2 separate regions of the Homo sapiens genome follow, and region 2 is linked to region 1. Evidence: fine-mapped expression QTL. Tissue or cell type: whole blood. Region 1 holds a variant in brackets; the other region holds the start of a gene. All regions are shown on one strand. Distances are between the middles of the regions.

The links. PIP is the estimated chance that this variant, and not a neighbour inherited with it, causes the effect.
Region 2: RAB11FIP1 starts here. The variant in region 1 is fine-mapped to the expression of RAB11FIP1 in whole blood (TOPMed, PIP above 0.99).

What each region holds. Positions count from the first base shown.
Region 1 is chr8:37,857,376-37,860,056 of GRCh38, reverse strand. RAB11FIP1 (RAB11 family interacting protein 1) reads left to right here. Exons shown (of 6, transcript NM_001002814.3): 6 at 1-1,439. Among named protein-coding and RNA genes, the nearest start is that of BRF2, 8.9 kb to the right of the region's middle. The variant G/C (reference allele first, on the strand shown) is at 1,273.
Region 2 is chr8:37,897,920-37,900,600 of GRCh38, reverse strand. RAB11FIP1 (RAB11 family interacting protein 1) reads left to right here and starts at 1,104. Exons shown (of 6, transcript NM_001002814.3): 1 at 1,104-1,530. The coding sequence starts at 1,160. RefSeq lists silencers at 840-1,069, 1,290-1,719.

The DNA.
Region 1 (2,681 bases):
AATTGACTCAAGGGTGCCTGGCTTCTGCTGCTGCTGGGAAAAAATTCAGTTTATAGCATTCCTGCACCTCCCAAAGTAGATAACCTGGAGGTCATTCAGTTAACAACTGTCCCTGAGGACTCAGTTTTGGGGGAGGGGTTATCTGGGAGAAGCTTTAGCCTGTTCTGAGCCATTAGGAGACATTAGTGAATTGGAGCACTGGAGAATCCTACAAATGGCCTATGTCTCAGAAGAGCTGGGACCTCCTTCCAGCTGCTGCAGATGCTGACAGGCCCTGGGAGGCTGCTGTGCTCTGGAGAAGCTGGAGCAGCTCATTTCTTGGCCTAGCCTGGCTGCCTCAGAAAGAGCAGTCAGGACTTGAGGGAAGCATCAAATTCTATACCCATAAACTGCAGTTGGAAGTCAGCTTTTTGAAATGTCCAGCCTTTGCCCAATTGTTTCAGATCATCTCATGCCTCAGGCTTTGGCAGGTATCCTGCCCTCCATCTTATTCCAGTGTGTTCACCTCATCAAGGCAGCAGAGTGGATGAAGGAGTAAGTCTGCCCTTTGCCATACTGAACAGCTGTGGACCCCGATTGGTGAGGGCTCTGCATATGCCTGTATGAAGGAGATACAGGTGTGTGTGCACATGCCGGTATGAAGAAGACACAGGCATGTGCTTCTCAGTTTTGCTAACAGTGGGAGCTCAACGGGGCAGAGGGAGGAAGGTCCATGATGCTCAGCCACATACTGTAGAGAGAGGCAATTTAATGTTAAATGACGCACCATCCTCCCTCCCACCCTTCTCCCAGTCAACTTTTTTTCTTTTTCTAGAACTACTAATTATCTCTCAAGGCTGAAAAATTAATTGCCTTAGGTGGAGAACTTAATTCCTAGTATCCACCAAACTTAACTCCGTATCTCCATATGGTGTCTCCATATCTACTGTGTGAGCTACTTAACTGACGCCCTCTTCCTCCAACTGAAGGATCGCCCAACGTTTTTGGATTATAGAATTATTATTTCCTGCTTTCTTTCTTTGGGACTTTTGAATTTCTTTGGTTTCGTTTTTAAGAAGTAACCCAACATTTCCTACAACACTAAATAAAATGGTACTTACCTTTCAAAGATTTGTGTCTGTAGTTTGGTATGGGTGCAATAAAAATTTATTTTGTCTTCCTGGAAAACCTCTCTTGGTGGGGGTGGGGGGATGACCAGTGTTTCTCATCCCATGAGGGTCTCTCACTGGGATTTCTGTTGCTGCCATCTTGCCTGGTTCCCAGGAGTCCCAA[G/C]GCCCTTTTTCTCAAAGAGGACGGACATGTCTGGTCCCTTCGGATGCACCCTTCATCTTGGCCTGAGGGACCATGGCACTGGCCAGAGAAACTGAGTTGGAACGTGCTGCCCCCTTTTCCTTTGCAGCCGGTACCCTTGGCTGAGCATTTGGACAGGGTCTTTCCTCAGTTCCCACCCCCACCACACACACAGGTTCCCACAGAGTGATGTCTTCACTTTGGGGGCATGAGTTGAATTCAGGCTGGGCTCAACTGCCCCATCTGGGAACCAGGTCCTTGTTCAGTTGACTTAGTTTGTCCATGTGTGAATAGAGGGTATTAGGGATGCACAGGAGTCTCCTGGAGTTCATCTCTCCAAACCCCAGGCCTTTCCCAAGGAGGTGAGAGGTGTGCCTGCCCCGCGAGCGGTGCACGTGGTCCACACTCCAAGGTCCCAGACCTCTTGGAATGGAAGTGATACCTTTGCTCTTAGAGATGAGTCACATTGTAGAGAGACAGAGGCAGGCGGTGCCTGTGAGACTCCTGGGCTGGGATGGGGGAGCTTCCCTGAAGGCCTCCCTGGTTTTGGTGGAGAGGCCTGGTGATTCCAAGTGGACATCGACTGCCATGTGTAGTGACATGAAGACACTTAATAAATTTTATTTTATTTATTAAATCTCTTAATAAAACAACCCTCTAAATGGAAGGTCTTCAAGGAAGGAAAGTTTAATTACACAAATGACCCCAACTTTTCTCTCTCAGATTTATTCCCCTTGCTTTGGAGTTCTGTTTGGTTCCTGCTATTGCCACCAAACCCAGCCCTCAGGGCCAGGCTATTATATTTTTCAAATTCCAGCCCAAGGAGGGAGACACAACCATCTTTTCTTTTGAGTCCCCTTAGCCCAGCAGCTAGTAATGGAAAGCTTTAAAAAAAAAACAAAAAACCAGGCCTGGCACAGTGACTCACTCCTGTAATCCCAGCACTTTGGGAGGCCAAGGCGGATGGATCACTGGAGGTCAGGAGTTCAAGACCAGCCTGGCCAACATGGTGAAACCCCGTCTCTACTAAAAATACAAAAATTAGCCGGGCATGGTGGTGGATGACTGTAATCCCAGCTACTTGGGAGGCTGAGGCAGGAGAATTGCTTGAACCCAGGAGGCAGAGCTTGCAGTGAGCCAAGATCATGCCATTGCACGCCAGCCTGGGTGACAGAGCAAGACTCTGTCTCAAAAAAAAAAAAAAAAAACAAGAAAATAAGGGAAATAATTATAGGATATATGAACAACATAAAAGGTGAACTTTCCCAAATCCAGAATTCTGAGTCGAAGTCAAGCCCCAAAGGTCTAGAGGCACCCAGTCACTCGGCTAGGTGGGCCCCAGTTGTTCTTAGGTGACCTGAGTTCCCTTGTGCTCCATTCTGGAGGAGCAA
Region 2 (2,681 bases), 41 kb before region 1:
GGGAGAAATGGGGAACTGCGGGCTGGGGGCCTGCCACTGTCCCGATGTTTGATTTGGCAATCCCATTTTCAGTTCCTCCTTTCTTCCCTTTTTCTAACTCAGCCTCGCCTTATCTGGTGGGGGGAGGGCAAAATAGGACACTCCCACATTGAACTCATGCTCCCCAGGATACCTTCCCCTTTTCCGGCCCTCACAAGGTCCTCACCTTCCTCTGCAGCTGCCTTCCTCCAGAGCAAGGCTTTCCAGCGGGAGAAGTAGAAAGCACAGTGAATTGGGTGGGCATCTTCCTTAGCACCCTCATAGTTACCAACTTTATTTTTTTGAGACAGGGTCTTGCTCTGTTGCCCAGGCTGGGAGTGCAGTGGCACGATCTCGGCTCACTGCACCTCGACCTCCTGGGCTCCAGAGATCCTCCAGACTCAGCCTCCCAAGTAGCGGGGACCACAGGCGCTTGCCACCACTCCTATCTAATTATTTTTAATTTTTTTTGTAGAGACGGGGATCTGGCTATGTTGCCCAGGCTGGTCTCGAACTCCTGGGCTCAGGAGATCCTCCTGTCTCAGCCTCCCAACGTGCTGGTCATGGTTATTTACTGAGAACTCACCATGAGCCAGGCACTGGGCCAAGAACTGTAATGCATTATTATTATTATTTTTTACAGCAATCCTAGGAGGTGATTGTCAGGTGAAGAAATTGAGACTTGATGTTAGGTAATCCGCGCAAGGCCACGACTGGCGATGTGACCCTGGAAATGAGGTCTGACTTCCAAGTCAGTGCTTCGGCCAGCTCCTTCCCGCCGTGCGACCTTTGGCAGCTGGGGACCCCATCCGTCACCTACCACCTCTCAGATTAGATTCTCGATGCGCCCGCCCCTGCGCACGTGATCCCCTGCCTGCCTGGCCGCGCCAGCCCCGCCTCCGGCGCCCGGGTGCCCGGAGCTGCCCGCGCTGCTGAGGCCGGCGGGGCGGGGCGGGGCGGGGCGGGGCGCGGCGCAGCAGGTGGAGCAGGCGGCTCGGGCAGGGGCGTGGCCTTGGCCATGAGGGGCGTGGCCTGGCGGGGGTGTGGCCGGAAGCCTTAAAGTGGCCTGGTCGCCGGGGCGGGCCGTGGAGGCCGCCAGTCGCGGCGATCTTCTCCTCGCTTCTGGAGTGTTATCGTCACCATGTCCCTAATGGTCTCGGCTGGCCGGGGCCTGGGGGCCGTGTGGTCCCCAACCCACGTGCAGGTGACGGTGCTGCAGGCGCGGGGCCTGCGGGCCAAGGGCCCCGGGGGCACGAGCGACGCGTACGCGGTGATCCAGGTGGGCAAGGAGAAGTACGCCACCTCCGTGTCGGAGCGCAGCCTGGGCGCGCCCGTGTGGCGCGAGGAGGCCACCTTCGAGCTGCCATCGCTGCTGTCCTCCGGACCCGCGGCCGCCGCCACCCTGCAGCTCACCGTGCTGCACCGCGCGCTGCTCGGCCTCGACAAGTTCCTGGGCCGCGCCGAGGTGGACCTGCGGGATCTGCACCGCGACCAGGGCCGCAGGAAGACGCAGTGAGTGCGGGCGGGGAGGGGAGGGCCCGGCCTGGGGGCGCGGACCCCTCCGGCAGGGCGGTCTGGGCGCTGGACCCTTCGAGAGTAAGCCGGGCAGCAGCGGGGAAGGCCTTTCGGGACGGAGCCCTCGGCCGGTGCTGGTGTTCTCACCTGGCTTCCCCTTCTGCGGCTGTCCCGCCCAGCTCTGCCAGCTTTGGGTCTTCTTGGAAGAAGGGGCCGTATCTGGGGCGCTTTTTTTTTTTTTTTTTTTAGACAGAGTCTCTGTCGCCCGGGCTGGAGTGCAATGGCAATGGCACGATCTCAGCTCACTGCAAACTTCGCCTCGCAGGTTCACGTGATTCTCCTGCCTCAGCCTCCCGAGTAGCTGGGATTACAGGCGCGCACCACCACGCCCGGCTAATTTTTTTTTTTTTTTTTTTGAGACTGAGTCTCACTCTGTCGCCAGGCTGCAGTGCAGTGGCACGATCTCGGCTCACTGCAACCTCCGCCTCCTGGGTTCAAGCGATTCTCCTGCCTGAGCCTCCCGAGTAGCTGGGACTACAGGCGTGCGCCACCACGCCCGGCTAATTTTTGTATTTTTAGTAGAGACGGGGTTTCATCAGATTGGCCAGGATGGTCTTGAACTATTGACCTCGTGATCCACCCACCTCGGCCTCCCAAAGTGCTGGGATTACACGCGTGAGCCACCGCGCCCGGCCCGCCCGGCTAATTTTTGTATTTTTAGTAGAGACGGGGTTTCACCGTGTTGGCCAGGCTGGTCTCGAATTTCTGACTTCAGGTGATCCGCCCACCTCGGCCTCCCAAAGTATTGGGATTACAGGCGTGAGCCACCGCGCCGGGCCTGGGGCGCTTTTGAATCTGCAGGACGCCCCTCAGCGTCTGGCACACAGTAAGCACTAAGTGAATTTTAGATGAATTCCAACTATACGTGGGCAGGTGCCTTCTTCTTACTAGGGTGGTAGCCCGTGTCTGATACTCGCCTTCGCTTGGGTGGAAGGCCTCCTGGGTATTTCACTGAATAGAAGAACACTTCGAGCCGAGAATGACTGGGCCAGGGCGCAGGGCAGAGGAACAGGAGGCATGAAACCAGCTGACACCCCCACCCTAAAGGCTAACCCCGGGCGCAACGCCTTTACAATGCGGGGTGGGTG